7 linked regions of the Homo sapiens genome follow. The protein of the gene in region 2 purifies or fractionates together with the protein of the main gene of each other region. This does not show direct contact. Each region holds a gene or a part of one and is shown on either strand. Other genes may lie near its edges.

Evidence for each region.
Region 1: the proteins of ST6GAL1 (region 2) and WAPL purify together in Homo sapiens (affinity purification with mass spectrometry; 2 studies listed by BioGRID and IntAct, with this or other methods). This does not show direct contact.
Region 3: the proteins of ST6GAL1 (region 2) and TMOD3 fractionate together in Homo sapiens (co-fractionation; one large-scale study listed by BioGRID). This does not show direct contact.
Region 4: the proteins of ST6GAL1 (region 2) and USP28 purify together in Homo sapiens (affinity purification with mass spectrometry; 2 studies listed by BioGRID and IntAct, with this or other methods). This does not show direct contact.
Region 5: the proteins of ST6GAL1 (region 2) and ATP2A1 purify together in Homo sapiens (affinity purification with mass spectrometry; one large-scale study listed by BioGRID and IntAct). This does not show direct contact.
Region 6: the proteins of ST6GAL1 (region 2) and ARFGEF3 purify together in Homo sapiens (affinity purification with mass spectrometry; 2 studies listed by BioGRID and IntAct, with this or other methods). This does not show direct contact.
Region 7: the proteins of ST6GAL1 (region 2) and PIP4K2A purify together in Homo sapiens (affinity purification with mass spectrometry; 2 studies listed by BioGRID and IntAct, with this or other methods). This does not show direct contact.

The regions. Positions count from the first base shown.
Region 1 is NC_000010.11:86,434,793-86,439,156, forward strand, and holds the end of WAPL (wings apart-like protein homolog), read right to left. Parts: intron 3,224-4,364; coding exon 3,128-3,223; intron 2,817-3,127; coding exon 2,751-2,816; 3' UTR 464-2,750; downstream 1-463. UniProt on the Homo sapiens protein: Regulator of sister chromatid cohesion in mitosis which negatively regulates cohesin association with chromatin. Involved in both sister chromatid cohesion during interphase and sister-chromatid resolution during early stages of mitosis.
Region 2 is NC_000003.12:187,076,075-187,079,702, reverse strand, and holds the end of ST6GAL1 (beta-galactoside alpha-2,6-sialyltransferase 1), read right to left. Parts: 3' UTR 1,150-3,628; downstream 1-1,149. UniProt on the Homo sapiens protein: Transfers sialic acid from CMP-sialic acid to galactose-containing acceptor substrates. In B lymphocytes, generates neuraminidase-sensitive lymphocyte cell-surface differentiation antigens, such as CDw75, HB-6 and CD76.
Region 3 is NC_000015.10:51,828,092-51,832,948, reverse strand, and holds the start of TMOD3 (tropomodulin-3), read right to left. Parts: upstream 3,297-4,857; 5' UTR 3,113-3,296; intron 1-3,112. UniProt on the Homo sapiens protein: Blocks the elongation and depolymerization of the actin filaments at the pointed end. The Tmod/TM complex contributes to the formation of the short actin protofilament, which in turn defines the geometry of the membrane skeleton.
Region 4 is NC_000011.10:113,865,289-113,869,652, forward strand, and holds part of USP28 (ubiquitin carboxyl-terminal hydrolase 28), read right to left. Parts: intron 26-4,364; exon of another isoform or gene 1-25. UniProt on the Homo sapiens protein: Deubiquitinase involved in DNA damage response checkpoint and MYC proto-oncogene stability. Involved in DNA damage induced apoptosis by specifically deubiquitinating proteins of the DNA damage pathway such as CLSPN.
Region 5 is NC_000016.10:28,888,186-28,892,549, forward strand, and holds part of ATP2A1 (sarcoplasmic/endoplasmic reticulum calcium ATPase 1), read left to right. Parts: intron 1-601; coding exon 602-768; intron 769-4,364. UniProt on the Homo sapiens protein: Key regulator of striated muscle performance by acting as the major Ca(2+) ATPase responsible for the reuptake of cytosolic Ca(2+) into the sarcoplasmic reticulum.
Region 6 is NC_000006.12:138,342,020-138,345,496, reverse strand, and holds the end of ARFGEF3 (brefeldin A-inhibited guanine nucleotide-exchange protein 3), read right to left. Parts: 3' UTR 834-3,477; downstream 1-833. UniProt on the Homo sapiens protein: Participates in the regulation of systemic glucose homeostasis, where it negatively regulates insulin granule biogenesis in pancreatic islet beta cells. Also regulates glucagon granule production in pancreatic alpha cells.
Region 7 is NC_000010.11:22,707,215-22,711,578, forward strand, and holds part of PIP4K2A (phosphatidylinositol 5-phosphate 4-kinase type-2 alpha), read right to left. Parts: intron 1-4,364. UniProt on the Homo sapiens protein: Catalyzes the phosphorylation of phosphatidylinositol 5-phosphate (PtdIns5P) on the fourth hydroxyl of the myo-inositol ring, to form phosphatidylinositol 4,5-bisphosphate (PtdIns(4,5)P2). Has both ATP- and GTP-dependent kinase activities.

The sequences.
Region 1 (4,364 bases), on a different chromosome or scaffold from region 2:
ACTCTTACTCATGTTTAAGTGGGGAGAGTAATGGAAACTCCCAGGAGAGATCCTTCAATCTAGTTTTGTGGCTAAAAGCAGTAAGGAGAAGTTGAGGAATCTACTTGTAAATGCAGGATGCCTAAGGGCTGACAATTAAGAAGAAAACTGAAAAACTAAAAAGCAGTGTAAAACCTCAGAAGCAAAGATGTCTTGGATCATACTCATAGGAGCAAAAAATAACCTAAATCAAAACAGTTAAGTATGCCAAGGGCCTAACTGAAAATCCAGTCCCTAATTGGCCTGAGTTGTTGAGTTCACATTATATTCAGATGAGTATTATTAAAAACATGGAGAAATAATAAAATATTTAACAAAAACTGGTTAAATGTGTTAAGTGATAGTGTATTTCCCATTAGAGTCGGCTATATATAAAGTTTGTGACACTTCTGTCCTCCAATAGACTTATGTTAAAGACAACATGTGTATTGAAAGTAGCAATTTTATTTGAGTTAAAATTATTTACAAAAACCCAAAGACATACTTCATGAAACTGGTACAAACTATTTTTTCCTGCCGTTGGCTTTTGCTCCAAAGATCACAGCTGAGAAATACTGTATAAAATAAAAATAGGATTGGATTCAGAAAAGTACTCTACTGTTCTAATTTCCAATTGGTAGTATTTACAGAAATATTTACAATGGAAAAAAGGTTACTTTAAAACTTTTAGTTAAGTCAGCCTCAAGTACCCTAAAATGCAGAGTTCTCTGAGGGTTAAAAACACACAAATGCACTGCAGTTGGTGAAGTGATTATCTCCCCCACCACCTCCCCCCACCAAAATCTGCATCTCTATCAGTGCTCGACAATTAGTTATTATTTAAAAAACAAAACAAAACAAAAAACTGTTAAACACTGAGGTAAATCAATTTTCAAATGATTACCAGTGTAACAGAAAAATGCAGTTCGCCCTGATTGTTCTCATCCAAATGTTTTATAATATTCCTTACCATCTGCCACAAGTCAGGTTCACCAAAAATCTGTCCCTTTCCCTAAATCCAATGATTAATAAATATCAATGTATTTTGCATTTTAAAATAAAATATAACTAATTTAATTTTACGGGTATCATTTACCAATATGTTTTTAAAAGTATTTTGCTAAGCTAGCTTTAATACTCAGGGCAAATACAATCTCAATGGTTCCCACGTTACACTGGCGTACTATGTTCTTAAAAGGTGATGGGTAGGGGTTGGGGTGGGTAGAAGGAAGAAAACAATTTGCCTGGAATCAGTTACTTCCTTACAGATTTCCCAACAATCTGCATTATCAAAAATAGGAAGACAATAGAAGGCAGCCACTGCATTTAAAAACATTACAGCTGGCACTGATACAAGAGCCCCGATTTGTCACTTTATACAAGGAAATAACAAAGTCTAAATGGGTAAAAATTAGACTTTTAGCTATTTTCCCCAATACACACCAAACTAATATTTTTATGGCTTCAAGTTTTACAAATCCAATGAAGAAACATGATGTAACTACCTGAAAGGTATTTAAAAGTATTAATGAAAAAGATCTCTAGAAAGCCTGTATTCAGGCCCAATCAATAAAAAAGGAAAAAAAAAAGTATAACCAGTGGTGTGAATAATACAAGAAAAATTTGCAATGTTATGATATTAAATCTATAAAATGTTTTGTGTTCCATAACTGTTTTTCAAATAACTGCTCTACGAACAAAGAATCTGAATGAAAAAAGGGTCTTCTCTAAACCAGCAATTTAAGGCTTTGCGCTTATGCAATTGATCCTGTCACTCTATAGAAGAATATACATGTTATCTGGAAACAGGAATTCCACATTGGTGTTTTAGCTTCCTTATATTTATTGTACTGAACATTAGAAAATATATCTAGAGAGTCTTTCCTCAAAATCTAATAATGTTTTAAGAGCCTCCCTAGCATTAAGTGTAAACTACCCTGGGTTTGACTATTTTGCCTCCTCCTTTTAACAGGGCACATCATCTTATATAATATTCTCTCAAACTGTTGTTTTTCTTGTGCCTATAGCTATGACACATTATGGTATGATATTGAATATGGTTGTGGTCTCAAAAGTAAAAAATAGTTCAATAACCCAAACCTAATCAAGAATAAAAAAATATACTATTAATCCCGTGTATCTTTGGATTCCATCTAATTTTAAATATAGACAGTAGTTCAGGGAACAACAACCAAAAAATTCACAAAATTATTAAAAGCTTTATTTACGATTGGAATCATTCAACAAAAAAGCAAAAGCAAATGAGCCTGAAAAAGGAACTAAGCTGTTGTCTAGAATGTCCTCAGAACATTCGCTACCTCAGTAGCTAAGCTGCCTTTGCACCTGGCTGGCATGACAACAGTGGCTCAACATACACAGCAGTTGCACTAACAGCAGCACAAATTTTCCCCTTCAAACTTGCCCAGAATAAAGCAAGAAAACAAGGGGAGGGTATAAACTCTGCCAAAGTAAATGTATTTAAATACTGCATGGAATTGTTAACAGCCTGAACCTTTTCCCCTCATTTTTGATAGTTGCAGATTGATGTAGTAACTGTCATTTAGCAAATGCCGAATGCATGACGAAGAAATCAGGTGGCCTTAAAAATCCAAACACGAATGATACTGATGAATGTTCTTGGTATATCTTCAAGGACTTCTTTCATGACTTGACTTTTCTTTGTCTAAGGATAGCTCCAGCATTACCGAGCACCTGAAGCAAAGGTAAAGCAGCTAGCAATGTTCCAAATATTCAATCACTCTAGAGATAGATTTCTGGCCAGTTGTTCCAACAGCACACTGAAAGCAGGGTGAAGGGGAAAGGAAGTAACAGTTAATATTTAACAGATTTTAAGAAGTATAAATAAAAGTTTACCTCTAGATTTACTAAACTGAACACTACAAATCAAAGTACACCGAGATTAAATTGTGGGTTTGATAAAGTTATTTGCCATAACATGCAATGATTACCTTGAAGAAATAGAACACGATTATTAAAATTAAAAGAAAATCCCTTTTTGCTCCCACTTACTATGGCCATAGTATTTTTATGTCTACTGTCAATGTATTATAAATTTAAAATCATATAAGCTGTAATAAAAGCTACTTACAGTGAGATTCATAAAACTCAAAAATTTTTTGAGCATCTCTGTCATTATTGAAAAGTCTCCTTCTGGCAGATATTCCCGCACAGTGGTTACATTGATCTGAGGAAACAGAGCAAGAAATATTGGTCAGCTGGCAGAAAACATGAGATTGCACCTCGTACAATGTTGTTGGTTTTGACACACATCTTGGTGCAAATTTTTAAGATCCTTGGAACACGTGGTTATTTATTCTCTTTCCACACTCACTCTGCATGTGATTTCCTACCTCACCCTCAGAAAGAAAGGAGAAAGGTAAAGTTGGCAAAAGCTACAAAGAAATATTTGTGTACACATTTACTTTTTTTTTTTTTTTTTTAAATGAAACAGTCACTCTGTTACCCAGGCTGGAGTGCAGTGGTGTAATCTCAGCTCACTGCAACCTCTACCTCCTGGGTTCAAGTGATTCCCATGCCTCAGCCTCCCGGGTAGCCGGGATTAAAGGCACGTGCCACCATGCCTGGCTAATTTTTGTATTTTTAGCAGAGACGTGGTTTCATCATGTTGGCCAGGCTGGTCTCGAGCTCCTGGGCTCAAGTAATCCACGCACCTTGGCCTCCCAAAGTGCTGGAATTACAGGTGTGAGGCAGCATGCCGACCTACTTTCATAAATGCAAAGAAAAAGGCCTGAAATAACAAACTGCACTGTTTAATGTATGTGTGTGTTTCACTGGGGGCCCTGGGGGAATAGGAGAAGAGGGTGAGGACTTTAGACCTGAGAATGTACTCACAAAGCTGCTCATGAAATAAAAAGATCAAAGAAAAATTCACATCCTTCACAGATGAATTCAACTAATTATATAGGACAGGAATTAACTAGAAGCATCTTTCCAAAGGCAATCTAACCTCATCTATGATAGATTCTCAGACAATATCAGGAGAGAAAACCCTTCATTATTAGCAAGAAGCAGCCAAACTATATATAAACCAATCTGTTACATGGAAAACATTACACAACCTGCTTAAAAAACTATTTCATTAAAGAATGCTTTAAATGTTTTACGGAGAATAAAAAGAAAAAATCTTTTAGGAAGGTTCACCTGTAGTAAGGGGCAAAAGAAAGTATACTGTCCCAAGTTTGGGGACACAAGGTAAAGGGTTAAACAAAACCAACCAAAAAACAAAAAGAAAACACACAAAAGCTCCCAATTCGACTTTTGTTAGCGGGGGCAAAAAAGGAGAGATGACATATTTCTCTTCAGAA
Region 2 (3,628 bases):
CTGGATGGGGACATCAATGCTTTGGGTGGTGGGATTTCAGGGGTACTGAGAAGGCCTTTTCCTCTCTCCTGAGCTGATGCCATTATCCCATCCCATAGCATGAGATTCCTGAGCGAGTGTTCCTGGCCTAAGTGAGAGTGGAAAGCGGTGTTAGAGCCACTTTCTGTCACATTACAACACATCCCAGAGGGCTGCGCCGGGGGTCATGAAGGAAGTGGAAACCAAGGACATCCAGAGGACAAGGACCTGGGACTAGAAAGGAGGTGGCAGTCTCTGAGTCCTGTGTGTCCTTTCTCCCCATCTTGCTCATGGCTCTAGAGGCCAGGCACTGGTATGGGTTCAGCACACTGCCAGGCCATGAAGCACTTTCTAAGAACAGTATCTAAGACACTGAAAGTCGGGCTTTGTCAGTGAGAACCCTACTAGTCGGGTGGGAGTGGAGGTTGCAGGTGCTTGGTATCTCTGTGGGCTCAGCCTTCATGGTATTCTCCCTGTGTGCATGCCTGTCTCCAAATTTCCACATTTCAAAAGGACACAAGTCATATTGGAGTAGGGGCCCAACCTATTCCAATATGACCTCATCATCGTCACTAATTACATCTGCAATGACCCTATTTCCAAATAAGGTCATAATCTGAGGTACTGGGGGTTAGGACTTCAGACATCCAAATCTTGGGGGGACACAATTCAACCTGTAACAAGGGGGTGGGCAGTTCACAGGAGAAAGGAATTATCCTCTCTCCCCTAACTCATGCTCCTTCTCAAGATTTGTGTCCAAACATTTTAAATCCTTTTAAGACATCATTCATTTAAGGATTTTAGAGTTTTGGAAACCGAGGGAAGGATCTTCCTTATGTTCTGCTTTCTGCCCGACTCCATCTCTTCTTTGATGCAACAGGTTAGTTATGTGAATCCAGGCAAGAACAAAAAATAAAAATAAAAAAATCAGTAAACCAGTGAATATTTCAAAGAGGTGATCCTTCCAGTAAAGTTCACATTTCTTTTCCTGGAGTACTGAGGAGTAAGTCTAAGGCTAGAGGAGCCAGTGGGTAAGGACTGGGGGGTTCAGGATCTCAGTTGTGTCCTCTTTGGAGATAAAAGTTGGCAATCAGCAGTTGTTCATTTAGCAAATAAGAAGAGAGAAGCAGCTTAAAGAAACACACACACATTTATTTTAAAATTTGACATAATCCTTGGGTAATTATTAGCATTTTTCAGAAGTTTCCGAGACTGATATCTCAACTCCAAACCAATAGCAATAGCTTATTTGATTGGTGGAAGGATTAGAGAGGGTCCCATGATCCAGATGAATAGATGGCTATCAAAGAAGACAGAACCCCATAGACACAGGCAGCATTAACTCATAATTTTTAAATTAACTGTCACAAATATGAAACATCTCACCAGACCAATGATAACGTCCATATCATAATTTGCATTTTACCAAAGTGTCCACATAGACAGCACAGAACTAAAAGTTCTGTAGACTTCAGAATCATATTTAAATTAATTTGATCCTTTATATTAATAATAATTAAAAACTAGATTCTACCCAGTGTCGTCCCAGTCTTCACACCAACATGTATGTCCTGCTGTCGGAATGCCACCTCCTCTGCACTCAGTGTCATGATTCGAAGATTAAAATCAGTGTGTCAAATCAGAACATAAACCAAGCCAGGAATTCATGGGCCCAGAGAGGGGTAAGGGGCTTGTCCTATACAGCAGTTAAGCAGCCCACGTGCTCCGCCCATTCCCAAGCAGAATCAGATTGGAGCTGCAGGCAGCGAGGAGGAGGGCGTGTTCTGTGTTGTCCACTGCTTTGCATGGTTTCTTGGGTGTTCCAAGGAGGACAGTTGTTGTCTCCCAATAAGACAGTTAATTCCCTGAGGACAGGACCTCTTCCACACTAGCCTCCGTCACAGCAGGGTGCATGCAGCCGAGGTGTGAGCACAGAGCAGGTCCCTACTAAAGGCAGGAAGGAAACCAGCATGAACTGAGCACCTACTACGTGCCAGGTACAGAGCCAGGACAGGTGCTTTCCTGTAATCCTCACAAAAGCAGTGAGATAGGATCATCATCCCCACTTTACAGGTGTGGAAACAGGCTCAAGGAAGAGCATTTGCCCAGAGTGGCACAGCTAGTCAGTAGGGGAGCATCAATTTGAAAATCCAGGCTTTCTCACTCCAGGGCCCTTTCTAGCTACATAAGCTGAGGGTTTGGCAGTAAATGAGGAGCCCAGCTCCGAGATGGTTAGTTTGGAGCCCAAACATTAGATCCCCTTGAGCACATGGGGCCAGCCTTGAGAGTGCAGAGCCCTGGGTCTAGGAATCCTGGCTCTACAGCATGACTTGGTGATCCTGTGCAAGTCTTTTAACCTCTCCACACCAGGGCTGCGCTGGTCCAGCAGGATTCCCTATCAGGGAGAGGGGACTTAGTAAAACCATCTGGAGAGCATGTCTGCAAACTACAGTGGGCCAGCCTCTGCCCAGAGAGCCTGAAGTTGCTCACTTGCAAGGAAGAGGTGCAGAGCATTGCAATCTGCTACCACACCTCTCACACCTGGTGAGAATCAGTTCTGATCTCCAAGGTTCTGACCTCTGAGAGTGACGTTAAGTCCAGAGAGCCACACCACTACACCCTGAGAGACCTTCAGCAAAAGGCCCGTGAGCTCAAAGAAATTGGGGTCAGGATGCTTTTAAAGCAAAAAATGCTTTAAAAAAAAAAAACAGATGGTGGTTAGGAGAAGATTTGGGGGTAGGTATTGAAAAGGAAGAATGGGACTGGTATGTAAACCCAGCTGACAGGACAGGGTCAGGCCAGGCAGAGCCTGGAGGAATCACGTTTTGTGGCTCTGGATTGCCTGGTATCTGTCGTGAGGCTGCACTTGCTACCTCAGACATGGGTAGGAGGTTTCCTAAAAAAATATCTTGAGTCTCTAAGTTCAGGTAGATCTTAGAAAATAAACATGGGAAGAAAGAAAAACACAATTCAAACGGCTCAGATGTAATCTGCTTGCCATGTTTCTTCTCTTCCTCTAAGACTCATCTGAATGCCCCCTGTGCTATAAAGCCTTCTCTGATCCACAAACACAGTTTTAAGTGCGTGGCCCTCCTGGGTGCACAGAGAGAGCAAGCCCATCTCTCTCCAAATCCCCAGTGCACTGAGCACACTGAATCCTACCTGCCTGTTCAGATGTCTGCCTCTCTCACTGAACCGTAGCAACTTGAGGATAGACACTGTATCCTTCTCTACCTTCCATCTCCACATGGAGAGGGAAAGTGGGCTAACCAAGACCCTTTAATCATAAGCACCCAGTCTAAGGACCAGCCCAACCAGCCAGAGTGATAGGAACACGTTCCAGGGGCATGGACCTCGGGAGCAACTTTTCTCTGGAGGCGCGGAGCATGTTTCCAATCCCCTGTACCACCTACTTGCCCCCCAGAGCCACCCTGCATTGGGCACAATTGTAATTTAAGAGAATTTCTTTAAAACGTGAAATCAATATTTAGATGCAGACTTCAAGCAATATAGAGCATTGGTTTGTGAGAATGGCATCATTCTGCTGGGAAAAACAAAGCCCAGCTTTGGCAGCCCTGATGGGAGAGATAGACCTTGCATCTACCAAGGT
Region 3 (4,857 bases), on a different chromosome or scaffold from region 2:
TGCCCTCCTCATCTACTCTAATCGAGAGAGCTCATGCATATTAAAGAGCAACTGAAAAGTGTGAAGAGTAGTTTGCCAGCTACAACACAGCCTAAATATCAGTATACATCAGACTGACACCAGAAAACCTTACTAAAAGCCTTTTTTTCCTCTACTGTTTACTGGATCCTCCTCTTTATCTTTCTCCCTCCCTCTATCCAGGTATACTTTTATCCGCAAAGCCTCTCATCCTCCCTGTGATATTGCTCAGATATAATTGATTTTCTCTTTTGTTTTAGTTTTTGAGACAGGGTCTTGCTATGTTGCCCAGGCTGTCCTGGAACTTTTGGGCTCAAGTGGTACTCCTGCCTCAGTCTCCCAAGTGGCTGGTACCACAGAAGCGTGCCACCACATCCGGTTCTAATTATGTTCATGTATCTGGCTCATCTCAGGTTCCAAATAAAATAAATTTACAGAATTCCACTATACTCTATGTAGATATGTCACATACATTCAAACAGTATAGACAGTATAGCCTGGGGAAAGAGATGACCAGTGAATGGAAAAAAATATTGACTTTAGTTGTTCCCCACTCCTGCAACTGGAAAATATCTCTCCTGAATATCTACCACGTTTTTATTCCCTACAGGTGGCTCTTACAAGTGCTGTGGACTATACATAAGTATATCTGCCTAATCCCAAAGAGAATAAGGTCCTAGACAGGAACCATGTCATTCATATATATATATATATATATATATATATAATTTTTTTTCTTTTTTTAGAGAGACAGGGTCTTACTCTGTCACGCAGGCTGGAGTGCAGTGGCACAATCATTGTCTCTCACTGTAACCTCAAACTCCTGGGCTCAAGCAATCCTCCTGCCTCAGCCTCCTGAGTAGCTAGGACTACAGGCATCACCACTACACCTGGCTAATCTATTTTATTTTGTAGAGACAGGGTCTTGCTATGTTGCCCAGGCTGATTTCAAACACCTGGGTTCAAGCAATCCTCCTACCTTGGCCTCCCAAAGTGCTGGGATTACAGGTGTGAGCCACCAGGCCCGGCCCTGGCCTCATGTCTTATACATATTCACCAGGAGCCTGAAACATTGCTTTGTACAGAATACAGAATGGGGCAAGACACATACTTGAATTCATGAATTGCCAAATTAATGTGAATGAAAACAATTAAGGAAGGAAGAGGAGGAGAGAAAAAAAAAGCAAAGAGAAAAAAGAAAAACTAGCAAAGAGAAAGGAAAAGGAAAGAAGGAGAAAAACTTATGATGACAATTGTTCTTGTTAGAGTTCATAGGACTACAGTATTTTAAAAAACTGAGAGTTGAAAAAGCCATCAATTATGTATCTAATATCAGTTATCAGTACCAGTATTTAAATTGCTATTAAAAACACCTGAAAATACCTCTAAAATTACCTCCCCACACTTGACATTCAAAGTATGGTCTCTGACAGCATCACCCATCAGACATACAGACTTTGGACTCTACTTCAAACCTAGAATATCCTGAATGAATTATGCATGCTAAAGTGTTTGAAAAGACTGCCCTCCACCATTCAGGGCCTTTCTGTTGTACCAAACCTGTTTTGTTTCAATGGGCCAGTAATTAAGACACGAAAAATCTTTGAATGGGATTTGACCTGTACCTATTTAATTTCAGATGAAGTTATTAATTACAATGTAGGTTGGCATATTGGATATACCACAAAATTTAGGAATTAATCATAAAAAATATGATTAAATAAAATTGAGCAGTAGGTCTACAGCATTCTCAAGAACTCATGTTTGCTCTTTCTCATGTCTATCATAGGACTTGGAATGCATATCGCCAGTGTTTCCTGAATGAGCAAAATAAATGAACTTTTAAAAACGAGAGATATTTAGGGGCAGAATAATCTTGGGGGTCATCTGGTCCAACAACCTAATTTTAAAGATCAGCAAACTACAATTTCTGAGAGTTGCAAAAGCAAAGAAAGCTCAAAGAATTAAAATATATTGGGACATTTTAATTCGTTTTGTTCCTTTCGTAGGAATGTGTAAGAAAGGGGACTGTAACTATTATGATTGCTGACTCTTAAAGGTGAAAAGGTGCCTAGGAAGAAGAAACTAGCAAGAGTAAATGAGACTTGGCAAAGCTATTTTTCCAAGCCTAATATATTTTTGACGGGCCAATTAATCAATTTAATCTGCCAAAAAAATTAATCTGAAGGTTTCTCAGAAAAGGAGAGGAGACATGAGCTGCATGAAAATGTTACAAACCAAGGGAGGCTGCACATAACTAACTTAAATCTCCACAGGCTTATTTCCTGTTGAAGTATGGCCTCCTGGGGTAAGTTTTACTGCAGTGTTCATTGCCAGATGACTTTTGGTTTTAACAGAGGCCAAGGGCAAGTTGGAAATGCGATTCTTAACTAAACATTAAAAAGAAAAAAAGAAACTGTGGCTGTTTCCCATTTCTGTTTGTAATCAGAATGCAGGCTTGCGGAGGAAACACACCATCCCCCGCAAGCAAAAATATAACGACACAGTCACGTCCTCAAAACAAACTAACACACAAACTTCCCAGCCGGATCCAGCTGTGCTGCCTGGGAGCTAGGAACTTAATTCTAAGAGCAGACAGATCAAACCGGTGAATGCAAGGGCAGCCACATTTCAATCACAAAAAGGGTGTGCCCTAAGTTTTGGCTCCCCCACTCCGCCGCCCCACTTTCAACAAGCCGAAGCCTTTGAAGGAGGCTCGGTGCCATCTCGGTGTGATCGCGTCCCGGCGACGCTGGGTAGGGTGCAGGGAGCCAGCTCGGCCGCGGCTCAGCGGGAGGGGAGGGGGCCGGTCCCGAACCCGGGCGCCCGGGCCGCGGGTGATTCACTGGGAACGCCAGGTTCGCGCGCCTAGACCGGCGGGCGACGCCCAGCGCGCCCCACGTCCCCCGCCCGGGCCGTTCGCGCAGAAGCAGCCCCCGCGCACCCCTGCTCCCCGAGACGGACCCGTCGGGAAGGAGCCTGGAGTCGGGCGGCCGGCGGGCAGCAACCTCTCCCTCCTCAGCCACCATGGCCGGTGCGACTCCCTACCCGCGCCCGCAGACGGACTTCCTGGAAAGCACCGGGCTGGGCTTACCTGACTGGCGCCCGCAGGGGCCGCCGACCTCTTCACAGACCCACGGAAACTGCCGGCCGCAAGCCGAGGCTCGGTTCCCAGCACCCGCCGGTCCGCCCGCGTCGGCCTCCCAAAGAGTTGCCAGACCCACCCGCCAGCAGCTCCCTCACTCGACCGCCCTGTAGGTGCGGTGGGTTCCTCCTTCGCCTCCGACGCGCGTGCGCACTCCCGTGCCGCGGGGCATCCTGGGAGTTGTAGTTCTAGCAAGAAGGGCGAGGCTCAACGCTGACCCTGGTCTTTACAATGGGCAGAACGTAGGAAGGGGACTGCGAATACCAACCCTTATCCCAGTCTAAGATAATGTTCTCTACCCGTGGAAGTACCTACTATGGACTTCCCCGAAGCTGGAAATAGTATCTAGAGGCTCTTTGGTATAGATTTCCTTTTTACTTTGACCTTTTGTAAAGAAGCGCACATGGCAGGGCTTGCATTGTAGCCTTGGTTGTTAATGCGAGGACATGACATTGGGGCCTTTAAACTGGTCATGACAGAGTTATAGAAAAGTAAAGGAATAAAATCTAAAGCCCAAGAGAGGCATAAATCATGCGAATGTCACCTCCAGGGTGTGGTGACCTTAGTGGTTTTCTTAGGTATGCGTTTCGGGGATGATGTAGCTATTGCAGGGCAGTTTCTGCCCATCCTATCTTCCCTTTCCATCTTCAAGCTCTACACCAGGCGGTGGGGCTGGCTGCTGTAGTGGGAGAAAAAACAGAATAGGCTGCTCAAGGGGGGGATTGGGGCAGATGGGTAGTCTAGAGGGAAGAGGAAGAGTGTGGGAATCTCTCAGAGGACTGTTTGACAGTGGCCTATGTAATGGCTACCTTTTGTGCGAGGCTCTGAGGAGAGGGAACTGCGACATTTTTCCATTTATTCATTTAGTCACTTACTGGGAATTTTCCTGGCCTGCTCTTCAGGAGTAGACCATCCCCAGGAATAATGCTAAACTTTGACACACCTTTCAAAAATGCAGCCAAAGAAGTGGACTGACGTGCCTGCTTGAGGTACATTCCAGCTACACCCAGTGTGCGAGCCACTTCATGGTTTAAACCTCTCCTGGCATCTACTTCTTCCCCTCAGAGGAGGGAGGACCCTAGGTTAGATAAACATCCTGGAATTTCATGCAACTGGCACCCACTAATTTCAGCAATGGAGATCACTGATGGTTTAGGTTTTTAAGGGAAAAAAACCCTTCTTTTTTTTTTTCCAAGACAGAGTCTTGTTCTGCCGCCCAGGCTAAAGTGCAGTGGTGTGATCTCGGCTCACTGCAACCTCTGCCTCCCAGGTTTAAGTGATTCTCTTGTCTCAGCCTCCCAAGTAGCTGGGATTACAGGCACGTGCCACCACACCCAGCTAATTTTTGTAGTCCTAGTAGAGATGGGTTTTCACCATGTTGGCCATTCTGGTCTTGAACTCTTGACCTCATGATCTGCCCACCTTGGCCTCCCAAAGTGCTGGGATTACAGGCGTGAGCCACCGTGCTTGGCCAGGAAAAAACCCTTCTCAATTGCAAATACTTAGAGGACAGTCAACACTCAATCTTGTGGCCATTGCATTTTATTTTCTATACCATCTTTGGGTCAATCTCTTGGAGATAACAGCTTTCTGAGAGCAATTTCCTACAGAATTCAGGTTCATAAGAATGTTTATACTTATAATACATACCAACCACTGGGCCAGCACTTCATTTGTAATATCTCATCTAATCC
Region 4 (4,364 bases), on a different chromosome or scaffold from region 2:
AAATTCTAAAAGAGCTGCAATGCTTTGGCCTTTCTTGCAGAAACAGAAAAGCTGATCCTCAAATTCACACAGAATTTCAAAGGACCTGGAAGAACTAAAACAACATTGAAAAGAAGAACAAAGTTGGAGGACTCACACTTCTTATATCAAAACTTAGTATTAATCCAAAGCTACGGTTATCATAACAGTGTAGTACTGGCATAAGGACAGATATATAGACCAACAGAATAGAACTGAGAATCCAGAAATAAACTCGTATCTGTGGTCAACTGATTTTCAACCAGAGTGCCAACACCATTTGATGGGGGAAAAATCATGTCTTCAACAAATGGTATTGGTACAACTGGATATCCACAGCAGAAGAATCACACTGGACCCCTACCTCACACAATACACAAAAATTCCTCAAAATGGATCAACAACCTAAATAAATAACTAAAACTATAAAATTCTTAGAACACAGAGATAAGTCTTCATGACCTTGGATTTGTCAATGGATTCTCAGCTATGACACCAAAAGCACAAGCAACAAAAGAAAAAAATAATAACACTTTTGAGCCAGGCATGGTGGTGTGTACCTGTAGTCCCAGCTACTTGGGACACTGAAGTGGGCTGATGTACTTTTCTGCATCAAAGGGCATTATCAAGAAAGTGAAAAGACAACCGGTATACAAATTCAAGAAATAAACACATACATCAAGAAATCCAACAAGAAATATACAGTGCTGGCCGGGCACGGTGGCTCATGCCTGTAATCCGAGCACTCCGGGAGGCCAATGTGGATCACCTAAGGTCAGGAGTTCAAGACCAGCCTGGCCAACATGGTGAAACCATCTCCACTAAAAATACAAATATTAGCCAGGTGTGTTGGCACGCGCCTGTAATCCCAGCTTCCTGGGAGGCTGAAGCAAGAGAATCACTTGAACCCAGGAGGCAGAGGTTGCAGTGAGCCGAGATCAGACCACTGCACTCCAGCCTAGGTGACAGAGCCAGACTCTGTCTTGGGGAAAAAAAAAGAAAAAAGAAATACACAGTGTACAAATTATCAAGAAAGTGAAAAGACAATGGGAGAAAATACTTTTAAATCATTTATCTGGTAAGAGTCTAGCATCTGGATGATATAAAAAACTCTCTTTGAACTCCCTTTAAGTCAACAACCAAAAAACGAGACAACCCAATTCAAAAATGGACAAAGAACTTAAAAAGATATTTCTCCAAAGAAGATATATAAATAGTCAATAAGTTTATGAAGACACTTAACATTAGCCATAACATTAACATGGCCAAATCAAAATCATGATGAGATGCCACTTCACACCCATTAGGATGACTGTTATCTAACAAAAACAAAAAATAACAAGTGTTTGATGAGAAAAGAGAAAAACTAGAACCCTTGTGTATTGCTGGTGGGAATATAAAACTTCCCCAGCAACCTTGGAAAACAGTCTGGCAGTTCCTCAAGAAGTTAAACATAGAATTACCATATGAGTCAACAATTCCTTCTAGGTATATACCCAAAAGAAGGGAAAACAGGTACTCAAATACAAGTATATGAAAATTCATAACAGAACTATTCATAATAACCAAAAGGTGTAAATAACTCAAATGTCCGTCAATGGAAGAATGGACAGGCAAAACATATCTATACATACAGTGGAATATTACTCAGTGATTAAAATGAAAAACTCATACATGCTACAACTTGAACAAATCTCAAAAACATTACAATAAACGACAGATGCCACACATAATAGGTCACATATTGCATGATCCATTTACATGAAATCTCTCTAATACGTAAATCTAGAGACAGAAAGTAGATTGGTATTGCCAGGGGTGGAGGGCATGGGGGAATAGGGAGTGACTGCTTAATGGTTACAAAGTTTTCTTTCAGGGTAATGAAAATGTTTTAGAACTAGACGGAATTGGTGATTGCACAATATTGTGAATATATTAAATGTCACTGAACTTGTACACTTGAACTTTTTTTTTTTGGAGACAGAGTTTTACTCTTGTCACTCAGGCTAGAGTGCAGTGGCATGATCTCCGCTCACTGCAACCGCTGCCTCCCGGGTTCAAGTGATTCTCCTGCCTCAGCCTCCCAAGTAGCTGGAATTACAGGTGCTCACCACCACATCTGGCTAATTTTTATATTTTTTAGTAGAGACGGGGCTTCACCATGTTGGCCAGGCTGGTCTTGAATTCCTGACCTCAGTGAGCCACCTCACCCAGCCCCACTTTAAAATAATTTTATGTTATATAAATTTTGCCTCAATTGAAAAAAAAAAAATCACCTGGGTGCAGTGGCACACACCTGTAGTTCCAGCTCTGCAGCAGGCTGAGGCAGAATGATCACTTGTGCCCAGGATTTTCAAACAGTAGTACACCACGATCATGCCTGTGAATAGCCACTGCACTCCAGCCTGAGCAACATAGCTAGACCCCAACTCTATGAAAAAACAAATGAATAAGGAAACCTGTATACACATCCCCACACAAAAGGAAAGAAGGAAGGGGGGAGGGAGGGAGGGAGGAAGGGAGGGAGGAAGAAAGGGAGGAAGGGAGGGAGGGAGGGGACACAAGAAAGTACTAACTTGGGCAAGAAGATTGAAAAAGAAAATGTTGTTTAGAAAATCTTCTTAGGGTTAAAGTGCCTACCAGCCATCATGTAGCATGCAGCTGGTACTTACTGAGGCAGATCTTTAGTTTGGTTTTGTGTGTCTGATATTTTGACCCCTGTTTTACGTAGAAAGCCTAGACGCTGGAAATAGTGCCATGCAGCCCAGACTCCAGCACACATCAGCCTCCTGGCAAATCTCAATCTTCCTCAGCATCAGTTTCCAGAATGGAAAATGAAGTACACCAAAAGCTTTGACAGCCCTGTATGACTATCAAAGGAAGTACTGCAAATAAATTGTTAGCAAAATGAAGAAATGCAATAGAAATGAAAAATACTGGGACTTGCCTGTTCAACTAAACTCCTCTAGAGTTTACAGTAAAAATACTGATATCCTGTGTTATAGTTTTGGTTTTATCACTTACTTGCTGTGTCACTTTGCAAATTCTACTTCCTGCTCATACTAAATTTTATTTCATAGAGTGCCTATGAGGGTTCAATGAAAAGTTATTAAAATTATTAAAGTGCTACATAGTCAAGTGGTAAGTCAGAAACTTTGGTTTTAGAAAGGCTTGTACTAAAGTCGGAGAAATGTTATGCTTCAAGTCAGAATGGCTTGAAGTCACAGCTCTGCTACTTATAATTCAATCATGGTCATAAGCTGCATTTCTCATCTGTAAGATAGAAGCAAACAGACTTCAGTTTAAAATCTCATACGAATAAAGAAAAAAAGAGATAGGTACCATGGTTCACGCCTGTAATCCCAAAACTTTGGGAGGCTCAGGCGGGAGGATCACTGGAGCGCGGGAGTTCAAAACCAGCCTGGGCAACATAAAGAGACCCCCCATCTCTACAAAAACTAAAAATATTAGCTAGGCATGGTGGCACATGTCTGTAGTTCCAGCTACTCTGTAGGCTGAGGTAGGAGAATTGCTTGGGCCCAGGAGGTTGAGGCTGCAGTGAGCCATGATAGAGCCACTGCACTACTCCAGCCTAGGTGACAGAGTAAGACCATGTCTCAAAAAAAAAAAAAAAAGACAAAAGAAAGAAAAGGAATAAATAAAATAAATCTCATATGAGGCCCTTATAAGGCATACTAACATCTGAGGTCAGGCACGGTGGCTCATGCCTGTAATCCCAGCACTTTTGGAGGCTGAGGCAGGATGACTTGGTTCATAAGTTTGAGACCAGCCTGGGCAACACAGAGAGACCCCATTGCTAAAAAAACTTTTAAAATTAACCACAGGCTGGGTTCGGTGGCTCACGCCTATAATCCCAGCACTTTGGGAGGCCAAGGCAGACGGATCACCGGAGGTCAGGTGTTCAAGACCAGCCTGGCCAACATGGTGAAACCCCGTCTCTACTAAAAATACAAAAATTAGGCGTGGTGGCATGTGCCTGTAATCCCAGCTACTTGGGAGGCAGAGGCAGAAGAATCAATAGAACCCGGAAGGCGGGGGTTACAGTGAGCTGATCTCACGCCACTGTACTCCATCCTGGGCAACAGACTGCGGTCCGTCTCAAAAAATAAAATAAAACAAAAGTAGCCAGGTGTGGTGGTGCATACCTGTGGTCCCAGCTACTCAAGTGTCTGAGGATTGCTTGGGTCTGGGTGGTCAAGGCTGCAGTGAGCCTTGACGGTGTCACCACACTCCAGCTTGGGTGACAGAGTGAAACCCTATCTCAAAAAACAAACAAGACATCTCAGTTTCCTCATCAGTAATAGGGTAATAGTTCACACCTTGCT
Region 5 (4,364 bases), on a different chromosome or scaffold from region 2:
CCATGCCTGGCTAATTTTTGTGTTTTCAGTAGAGATGGGGTTTCACCATGTTGGCCAGGCTGGTCTCGAACTCCTGGGCTCAAGCAATCCACCCGCCTCGGCCTCCCAAAGTGCTGGGGTTACAGGTGTGAGCCACCACGCCTGGCCCAAAGACCCCTTTTCCAAGTAAGGTAACATTTACAGGCTCCAGGGATTAGGATCTGGTATCTTTGCGGACCATTATTGTTTGTTTGTTTAATAGAGACAGAGTCTCACTCTTGTTGCCCAGGCTGGAGTGTGGTAGCACAATCATAACTCACTGTAATCTCGAACTCCTGGATTCAAACAATCCTCTTGTCCCAGCCTCCTGGGTAACTGGTACCACAGGCAATCACCACCACACCCAGCTAATTTTTAAATATTTTCAGAGGAGTCTCACTGTGTTTTCCAGGCTGGTCTCAAACTCCTGGCCTCAAGTGATCCTCCCGCCTCAGCCTCCCAAAGTGCTAGGATTATAGGTGTGCACCAACGTGCCCAGCTGGGGGCTACTATTTAGCCCCTTGCAGGTTCCCTCACACCCTCCCCTTGCAGGTTCCCTCACACCCTCCCTCCCTCCCCACAGGTCTTCCTGCAGTCATCACCACCTGCCTGGCCCTGGGTACCCGTCGGATGGCAAAGAAGAATGCCATTGTAAGAAGCTTGCCCTCCGTAGAGACCCTGGGCTGCACCTCTGTCATCTGTTCCGACAAGACAGGCACCCTCACCACCAACCAGATGTCTGTCTGCAAGGTCAGGAGCAGTGTGGGCAGCGCGCTCAGTCAGAAGGCTGCCTGTGGGGGTTAAATGGGCCCTCCAAAGATAGAGGTCTCCCTTCATCACTGCTGGCTTCTCATCTGGGCCTGCAAAATGCTCAAAGGGCAGTAGAACGCCATCCTGTCTGCCATGAACGGGATCAGAGAGGACCCTTGTGCCCCAGCCAGACAGCTCACTCTGACCACCATCCACGCACCAGGCACTGCCACACATCGTCTCTCATCCCTCACAATAGCCCATTCAGAGGATGGTCTCATTATCTTCATTTTTTTAATTAAAAAAAATTATTATTATTTTGAGACAGAGTCTCACTCTGTCGCCCAGGCTGGAGTGCAGTGGTGTGATCTTGGCTCACTGCAACCTCTGCCTCCCGGGTTCAAGCGATTCATCTGCCTCAGCCTCCCTAGTAGCTGGGACTACAGGTGCCTGCCACCACGCCTGGCTAATTTTTTTGCATTTGTAATAGAGACAGGGTTCGCCATGTTGGCCAGGCTGGTCTTGAACTCCTGGCCTCAAGTGATGTGCCCCTGTTCGCTTCCCAAAGTGCTGGGATGATAGGTGTGAGCCACGGCACCCAGCCTAACTTCCTTTTTTAGAGGAGGAAAAAGCCTCTGAGAGATTAAATGACTTCCCCCAAGATGCACAGTTAATAAATAACAGAGTTGAGCTTCAAACCCGAGTCTGTGTGGCCCCAGAGCTTCTGCCTGTGAAGTAGATGGCTCTCCAGAATGGTCACTCATGACAGGGCCCGGCCAGACTGCCAACACTGACCGTGAACAGCATTTCCTAAAGCAGGGCTCTTAATCTTTTCTGTGCCTCACACCCCTTTGCAGTTGAGCTCTTGTCAGGATAATATTTCAAATGTATATTAATAAAATAAAACAGGCCAGGTGCAATGGCTAACGCCTGTAATCCCAACACTTTGGGAGGCCAAGATAGGCAGATCACGAGGTCAGGAGTTCGAGATGAGCCTGGCCAACATGGTGAAACCCCATCTCTACTAAAAATACAAAAATTAGCCGGGCATGGTGGTGCGTGCCAGTAATCCCAGCTACTGGGGAGGCTGAGGCAGGAAAATTGCTTCAACCCGGGAGGCAGAGGTTGCAGTGAGCCGAGATCGCGCCACTGCACTCCAGTGTGGGCGACGGAGTAAGACTGTCTTAAATAATAAAATGAAATGAAATGAAATAAAATAAAATAAGCCAGGGGTGGTGGCTCACGTCTGTAATCTCTTCAGGAGGCCAAGGTGGAAGGATCACTTGAGCCCAGGAATTCGAGACCAGCCTAAGCAACATAGTGAGAGTCCGTCTCTACCAAAAAAAAAAAAAAAAAAAAAAAATTAGCCTGATGTGGTGGTGCACACTTGTAGTCCCAGCTACTCAGGTGGCTGAGGCAGGAGAATCACTTGAACCCAGAGATTGCTTGAGCCAGGAAGTCAAAGCTACAGTGAGCTGTGATCACACCACTGCACTCCAGCCTGCATGACAGAGCGAGACCCTGTCTCACGCACAAAAAAATAAAATAAAATAGGGCTAGGTACGGTGGCTCACGCCTGTAATCCTAGCACTTTGGGAGGCTGAGGCGGAAGGATCACTTGAGCCCAGGAGTTTTAGACTAGCCTGGGCAACACAGTGAGACCCCACCTTTTAAAAGATAAAATAGAAAGTAAAAAATAAATAAACAAAACAGGATTCTGGGTTTTTTTGTTTGTTTTTTTTTGTTTTTTGAGATGGAGTCTCACTCTGTTACCCAGGCTGGAGTGCAGTGGCCCAGTCTCGGCTCACTACAACCTTCACCTCCCAGGTTCAAGTGATTCTCCTTCCTCAGCCTCCTGAGTAGCTGGGACTACAGGCACGCACCATCACACCCAGCTAATTTTTGTATTTTTAGTACAGATGGGGTTTCGCCATGTTGACCAGGCTGGTCTCTTAACTCCTGACCTCAAGTGATCTGCCCACCTCGGCCTCCCAAAGTACTGGGATTACAGGAGTGAGCCACTGCGCCCGGCCAGGATTCTGTTTTAAAAATACATAGGAAGCTGGGCACGGTGGCTCATGCCTGTAATCTCAGCACTTTGGGAGACCGAGGTGGGTGGATCACCTGAGGTCAGGATTTCGAGAATAGCTTGTCCAACATGGAGAAACCCCGTCTCTACTAAAAATACAAAAATTAGTTGGGCGTGTTGGCAGATGCCTGTAGTCCTAGCTACTAAGGAGGCTGAGGCAGGAGAATCACTTGAACCCAGGAGGTGGAGGTTGCAGTGAGCTGAGATTGCGCCATTGCACCCCAGCCTAGGCGACAAAAGCAAAACTCCATCTCGAAAAAAAATATAAAAGACCTGACGCAGTGGCTCACGACTGTAATCCCAGCACTTTGGGAGGCCGAGGTGAGCAGATCACCTGAGGTCAGGAGTTCGAGACCAGCCTGACCAACATGGAGAAACCCTGTCTCTACTAAAATACAAAATTAGCTGGGCGTGGTGGCACATGCCTGTAGTCCCAGCTACTTGGGAGGCTGAGGCAGGAGAATTGCTTGAACCTGGAAGGCAGAGGCGGTGAGCTGAGATCGTGCCATTGCACTCCAGCCTGGGCGACAGAGCGAGACTCCGTCTCAAAAAAAAAAAAAAAAAAGTAGCCAGATGCGGTGGCTCACACCTGTAATCCTAGCACTTTGGGAGGCCAAGGCGGACGGATTACCTGAGGTCAGCTTGGCCAACATGGTGAAAACCAGTCTCTACTAAAAATACAAAAAATTAGCCAGGCGTTGTGGTGGGCACCTGTAATCCCAGCTACTTGGGAGGCTGAGGCAGGAGAATCGCTTGAACCCAGGAGGCGGAGGTTGCGGTGAGATTGCACCACTGCACTCCAGCCTGGGCGACAGAGTGAGACTTTGTCTCAAAAAATAATAATAATAAAATAAAACAAAAATAAAAAAGTAAAAAAAAAATACATAGGAAAGATACATAGGGTTACAGAGGAAACCAATGATTGTGAAATACAGTTCTATCAAAATTTTTAAAAACAACTTTGTAATTTGGCAACACACATGCTTCTTTATTAAGGCATTAATTAGGGAGTTCTCGCAGTGGGTCTAAGCACTATCATAATGTTGAAGCAGTGGTGAGCATAAATTATGCTATTTTGAGAGATCTGCAACAGTGGTAATGTGATAGGAGGAAAGTATCTGTGATTAAATTGGTGACAGTCACAGGTTTTGCTAATACTAATGTGGTCTGTTGACAACATGCATAACTGGAAGGAAATGTCAAACGTCAGCTTGAGAACAAGAAAAGCTGTCGTTTTTTTCTTGGCTATCTCAGTTCTTGGGCTCCTTGCAGGGTCTTCCACTGACCTCAGGCCAAGAACCCCTGCCCTTCACAGAGTTTTGTGGAAGACTACACCCATGAACTAGAAATTGCTGTTCTGAGAAGCAAGGGCTGTGTGGTCAGATCAGGGTGAGAAAGGCTGTAACCTTGGCTCCTGGGCGAGACCCACAACATCTGCTGCTATTTGAAAGCCTTAGAGGAGGCTGACTGTGTAAAGAAGACGGATTCTGCTTTGCCCCAGAGGTTC
Region 6 (3,477 bases), on a different chromosome or scaffold from region 2:
ATATATATATATATATATATATATATATATATATATATATATATAATTTTTTTTTTTTTTTTTTTTTTTTTTTGATGGAGTCTTGCTCTGTCGCCCAGGCTGGAGTGCAGTGGCGCAATCTTGGCTCACTGCAAGCTCCGCCTCCCAGGTTCACACCATTCTCCTGCCTCAGCCTCCCGAGTAGCTGGGACTACAGGTGCCTGCCACCACGCCTGGCTAATTTTTTGTATTTTTTTTTAGTAGAGATGGGGTTTCACTATGTTAGCCAGGTTGGTCTTGATCTCCTGACCTTGTGATCCGCCTGCCTCAGCCTCCCAAAGTGCTTGGATTACAGGTATGAGCCACCATGCAAAAAATTTTGTTTTTAATTGACATCACTAATTACATTAATTGTACATATTTATGGGGTATAGTGTGATATTTTGATATATGTGTATTTAAAACAATAATCTAGTAAGATCAGGAAGTTAAAAGTGGCTGTATTTTTTAATATTACTTTTAAATACTAATATTCTTATTAATTGGATTTTTGGTTGTTTATGAACAAAAGGTAATACTTTAATTTTTTAAATGAATGATCTACATCAATATCTACTGACAGTAGGAATTTGATATAAGTTCTTATGAGTAAAAGATAATATCATAGAATAAGCCCTTTTTTTAAACAAGGAAATGATATATTATTTCTACAAATTTGTTTTTTAGGCATATACCAAATTGTCAATAATGACTATCTCCATGTTACAGGATTTAAAATGGGCCTTTACATTTAGACTTATGAAATGCCATGAAAAGGGGCCTAATTCTTTTGACAGAATTCTGTAAACACAGGATATTTATATATATTTATTCAGTAAACACAATTGTTTCATGTACCAGATTTTTAATGCATTTGAATCTTTATTCTACAACACAAGCAACATAAATACAATATCTTTTAAAATATTTTCTCTTTAGAATTTTCATTTCCACCTCAGATAAAATGTACACAAAATACACTTGCAAGCTTGCTTACAGAGACCTGTTAAACAAAGAACAGACAGATTCTATAAAATCAGTTATATCAACATATAAAGGAGTGTGATTTTCAGTTTGTTTTTTTAAGTAAATATGACCAAACTGACTAAATAAGAAGGCAAAACAAAAAATTATGCTTCCTTGACAAGGCCTTTGGAGTAAACAAAATGCTTCAAGGCTCCTGGTGAATGGGGTTGCAAGGATGAATTTTGCATTTTATAGGTAAAATGGTATACTGACTCAAATCATTATGGCTATAACAAGCTTCATTTATTTATAATCTTCAATGAAAATAAGTTGATTCTTTGGCATAATACTATAAGGAATAAAAGGACCCATACCACCCACTGGCTTTATCTAGAGTGGGAGATAGTAGTAGGGGAACTGTTTATAATGTAATTTGTCTAAGTTTATTCCTCTTAGAAAAGCGGGAAAAGCATATTGAATAATAGTCTCTTAGCATGATTAGGGCAATAAACATCTTATTCTTATCTGTCCCATCCCCACAACACAACACTAAGAAACAAAAATAACTTTTCCCTCTAGGCACCTCCTCCTGCCCCATCATGCCACACCTGGATATTCTATCACATTGTTTCAACTGAAGTGAAACCCAACTTATCAAAAGCATTCATCTTTGTTCAGCTTTGCCTATTTTGTGGGAAATCAATTTTTATTAGAGAGAAGCACTCCCAATAAGAACCAGATGAAAGAAATGTAGGACAAAGCAGCTTGCACATAATCCCGAGGTAGCCAGGGATGCTCACTGGGGCTGGCAGTGTCAGGGCCCGAGCCTCCCTAACTTTAAGAAAAAACATAATCTTTTACACATTGGTTCAAAAGATTGGCTTTTGGATTCCCTCCTCTCCTTTTTGGCACTGGTTGGTAAAACAAAAATAAATTACTCTTAGAGATTGACTTTTGAAATTTAATTTTAAAATCAGTGTTACTAAAAGAACTAAATGCACACATAATTTCCAAAAATTATGGGAAACTAAAGTAAAAAAAAAACCAAAAAAAAACACCCTTATTTCCATCCACAGAGGCAAAAACTCTGTAGATTGTCTCCTTGATATCATCAACATTCTGATATGCTTTCTGATCTCACTAATTCTAGTAAATATAATCATTTCCTTCCATTCCTACAATAGTCTAAACTAATTTAAATGAAGTCAGCATATTTATTAAGCAGAAGTCTTTAGAGAAACCTCATTGAATCAATAAGCATTATGTGTAATTAATACAGTTTATAAATAGGTGATGATTTTTAAGTGACTTGTTTTTTCTTAAATCATTCTCTGTATGGTCCTTAATTTTTTTTAATGGTAAAAGAATTTCCAAAACTAATTAATTCAGTAAAGAAGAGATAAACTAAGGCCCCCTCTATATGAGTTAACATGATTTCACTGAATTCCCAAAGCACACTGATTCACTTTTATATTTTTCCCATTATTTGGAAGATGAAATAATGAATATGGTCTCCACCATGTAGATATGTGCACAAACAACATATTTACTGAAAAGTCAAAAACAGGCACACCTGCTGCTTAAAAGGGAATTAGTTCATTTTGCAAATTTCCGTGAAGCCTTTGGGTAGACTCTTTACAGATATATATGAAATTAAAATGTTAATTTACGCCAGAAAATTAAATGAAAGATGAAGGTACAACAAGTAGTCTCATCTCATCTCAAATGGCTAATATTTTGGTGGCCAATGAAAGATGTAAAACAACTGGCAAGCAAACAACTATTCAAAAATCTGTAAGCCAGGAGCCAAGGCTGTAAAGGAGCTGACATGGAAACATCTCATTAAAACGACATGGATGGAAGAAATTCAAACACTACATACTTAAATTTAAAATCACCTTCAGTACAAGTCAAAGGGTCAACATGATACAAATGATCATCCATAGAATCAATGTTTCTAAATACAAAGACAAGAAGCTTAGATTTATCTCACTGTTCCATAGAACTTATACATTCATTGTCTTCTAGCTTGTAAAAACCAATTGTTGGTATAATAAAACTGGAAACTGGGAAGATTGAGCAAGACTGCTGTATAGAATCCAATCCCAAGTCATCTGCCCAAGGGTAGATTCAGTTTTTCTCTAGCGTTTGATAAGTCAGGCTGATCTTAAAGGTAGAAGTTGGAAATTTTTTCAAGGCAGTGGTTCTCAAAGCATAGTTCCCAAAACAGCAGTATTGGCCTCACCTATAAACTTGTTAGAAATACAAATTTCCTGATTTACTTAACTGGGAACTCTGACCATGAGCCCAGCAATCTGTGTCTTATTTTAAAAAAAGGCCCTCCAGGTGATGCTGATGTGTACTAAAGTTTGAGAACCACTGTTCTAAAGACAGAAGATACTAGACAACCACTGGTTAAACCTTCAGGATAGGAATTAACAGTACGAACAGTTGTTGGTGGTTGAAAAGGGTGGAAGGACCATAATTAGATGG
Region 7 (4,364 bases), on a different chromosome or scaffold from region 2:
ATATAACAAACTTCCAAAGTAGGTACCATTATTACCTCCTTTTATAATCAAGGAACTGAGAGGCAAAATAACTTGTTCAAGGTCACATAGCCAACCGAACAAGGACTCCAGAGCTCTTAATCACTGTGCCCAGGTAGCTGAAAAACTATAAAGATTTAGAATTGTGAGGCTTAGCTTTAGGTAAGTTACTGTTTTAAAACTCCCTACAACATTTTTCTTAAATAAATTATGTACTGGTTCTCTCCCTACATGCTCTGAACATTAACAATGATTTTCTTTCTATGAAGGGAAAAACTGGTTTTCAAGTAGTTTTCTCCCATGTTAACAGCTAATACTCTGTCCATCCAAGAAGAACAGCTCTTAAGACTAAGAAAATAAAAGAACTCAAAGAAATGAATGATTCCTGAGCTTGGCCCAGGCAGCACAGCTCAGTGGTTAACGGTACCGTTGTGAATCCCAAGTACTAGGCACTGTGACCCAGGCGGGTAATCAATTCAGCCTATGCGTGTTCCCCCCCAAGAATTCTTCCTGGCTGCTGCGTGCTCTCCCCACTTTCTCACCCCACACTATCCCCATCTTATTCTTGCAAGGGTTCTTGATGGGGTTCCATGAACTCCCAAGTGGTCCATGGATAGAATTAAAAGGATCCTTGAACTTGCTAGGACATATCCTCTGTATTTTCATTTATTCCTTTAAAAGCCTCATTCTGAGGAGTCTATGGCCTTCACTGGACTGCCATAGGAGTTCCTAGTACAAAAAAGAAAAGAAATGAGGATAAAGGCAGACACAGGGAAATAAGCTAGGGGGGTTTAATATCAGTCTAGGAAAGAGGGAAACAAATCTGGTTAGGAGTGACAGAAGTGAGAATGGAAACGAAGAGACGGATTCAAGGAAACTCCCCAGGGATTCCTAACAAAATGGCATCTTTCACCTTCCTTCTACTTACCTTCCAAAAAAGAGGAATTGCCTCTACTTCCACTCATTCACTCCTTAAGTCTTTAAGCTTTCACAGCCACCCGCAATCAACCACAAGCACAGCCATGACTTTCAAGCACTTGGGAACATCTAATTGTGCCGACCTCTGTTTTCTCCTCCTGTTTCTTCTTCCTCTGTCCTTCCCTCAAAGCCAAGTGTCCCCAGTGTCCCTGCTCCTCCGGTGGAGATCTGACTTACCGATTCTGTACGGGCAGGTCTCAATGGTCTATCCCAGCCCTAGTGGCTCCCGAGCTCCAATCACACCTTTCCAGCATCCTACATGGTACTGTAACTGCAGGATCCACCCACCACCATCACCTGCAATTCCACATTCTTAAATCTAAATTGCTTGTGTCCCTTTCCAACCTACAATTTCTTCTCCCAAATTCTCTAATCTATCATGGGGCCACCATTCTTCTAAGGGCTCATCACATACAGTTGGGGCTGGGGGAGGAATCCTTAGTGGTAAAGTTCTTCCTTCTACTGCTATGTAGCCTGTGGACCTGCAGCATCAGTACCACCCGAGAGTATGATAAATGCACAGTCTCAGGCAGCACTCCCAACAGATCTGCTGAATTAGACACTGCATTTTAATTTTTATTGTTTCACATTTAGTGGGAGCCTCCATCTGTCACCCAAGCTACAGTACACTGTACAACCATGGCTCCCTGCAGCCTGGACCTCCTGGACTCAGATGATCCTCCCACCTCAGCCTCCTGAGTAGTTCAGGCTACAGGTGTGTGCCACCATACCCATCTATGTTTTTACATTTTTTGTAGAGACAGGGTCTTGCTATGCTGCCCAGGCTGGTCTCAAAATCTTGGCCTCAAGCAATCCTCCTGCCTCAGCCTCCCAATGCATGACTAGGATTACATGCATGAGCCACCTACCCAGCAGCAGAGCCTAATTTAGCAGACTTTTTTTTTTTTTTTAAAAGTCCCCGATTGATAAACACCTTAAATTTTGAGAAACAGGGATCTGGTTCTTTTAATATATCACCATCCAAACTGCATTTGAACTTTATTACTTTTAGGCATCATTTACTGAATCCTTATGATGTGCTAATTACAGTGCTAGGCCTTAAACACAGTATCTCATTTAACTCTCAACCCTGTGAAGTCATATCATTATCTCCATTTTAAGAATGTGAAAATTGAGGCTCAAGTGACTAAATCACCTGCTCAAAGAGCCCATCAGTTCCAAAGTTAGCATTTGAACCTCATCTGTCTAACCACAAACCTTTTTTGCCAAATTGCACCAATTCCCTTCAATTCCAAAATTTGTATTTCGAAGGCTATGCTGGCAGAATTAATTACTCTGGTTGCCTGTATTTTCTAATCAACTTAAGGCAGATTTTGGTGGTTTATTATAATTCTTGCCGGCAACCTATCTAAAGACACAGCAGATCAGGATACCCTGGAAATAGAAATCACTGACCTGACATGGGGCATCATTCTGAGTACTGAAGTTTAGTAACTGTAAGTACTAAGTAACACTAAGTACTAAGTATAAATACTTAGAGTTCACTCTAAAGTATCTGACAAATGGAGAGGAAAATGTATTCTGTTCTCTGGTTATAATCCCAAGTTTTAAGGAGTATAAAACGACTTCCCTAATAAACTTTCTGTATGTCTGCTTGGTATGTTTCTTTCCTCTGAAGATTAAAAAGAACAAAAAAATAGTTTGAGGAGACTAGTTCTTGAATGAATGGTAGCTGGGTTCCACTCAATAATTTCATCTAATGTCTAATTTTAATTTTAATGTAATTGCCTTATTATGTCCTATTCAGTCAAAGTCATTTCACAGTCACTCAAATCACTTTAAAACTTAGTTTCCTTATCTTCTTTCAGTGCCCAAATAAAAACCCATGAACCAAAAAAAAAAAAAAAAAAATTATGATGTATCCAATATGGTCTTTGTCTATTCCAAAAACCAGAGCTTGTGGAGAATATAATCAAAGCTACTGACGCTCCACCAAGGACACCATGAATTCTCCAATCCACACACAACACAGCACATGGTGCTCATCAGGCTGGCCCTCACAGATTCCCACGGTAAAGACCCACGGATGTCCAGAACCATCCAGCTCTATTACTCGGACAGAGACCTGCCTGAAACTGCCTGGCAGGCCCTTTCCCCTCTCTGGGGACTGTTCTTTCCCCAACGCCAACAGGCAAGCGCTGCCATGTTTTTATAACTGCTTAGTCCAAGGGACGGCCACAAATGACCAAGGCCAGACCAATCCCAAGTGGAATCCTTCCACGGTATTTTTATAACTGAATTAGAGACAGGAAACCCTTTTGGGGGAGCAGAAATGACAAAATGTGAAATACAGGAACCGTTCATTCCCTGCTCTGTGGAGGAACCAGCCAGCTATGAAGGAGAACTGAGCCAAAGGGTACAGAAAAGTCCCACGCACTCACACACCCACACACTCAAGCACCCAGCTCTTCACATGGTTCCATTACCAGCCTTTCCTTCTACTGTGATAGGCCCCCCAAACCCCTCAATACCTGACATTTTTGCCAAAGCTCATTTCAACTTCTACAGCTTTAAACCAAAAGCCTCTAACATCAATACTTAGCTACTTCTAAATGCTACATGTTTTAAACAAGTTTTATGTGCTTTAAGATTTTTCTATACAGATAATGTTTTCCTTTGGATATTTAAATAGGTTTTAAAATACTAATTTCTAAAAGGCTCACATTTCACTGTGGATAAAAATCTTTTAGAGTATCTATTTAAAACAAGTCTTGGCTCATATCATTCAACATCCTCCCCACACTATTAAAATATCATCTTAAGACGCTTACTGTTTGATCATTTTTAGTTTAATTCTAAATGTAACAAGACAAAACTGCCTTAAGTCTTTTCCTTTATGTATTCAGTTATATTCTCTGCTTAAAATACTTAAAAATTGGCACTGATCCATTCACTGATGGGTATTTTAAGTTACAAAGCAGTAACATATCAAATTAACCACACAATGGCAGGCTTACTCCCGACTATGACCATTGCCCAAATCAAGATTTTCATTACCACCTCAATGGACTTGAACATTTTCACCTTAATTGCAAGTTGTTATGTTTCAATCAAATCGACTTTGGCTTAATAGACTGCAATGCAGTTCAGCTACATTCAATATAACAAACCCTTAGTTCACAGTCTCTTAAAATCACCATAGATTTCCTTCCCCTGTAGTCAAGGTCTTGAAAATTCCCTGAATGTTGCTGCATTTGGAAGGTTATAATAGTAAGACAACTTTTATATAGTATTCTACAAATCCTAGTATAACACTGTGCACCTAGTAGACTGAAAAAACAGAATCTTGAGTTAGACTTGGAAATCATCCAAACAACCTCAGTTCACAGATGCAAACACTGATGCCA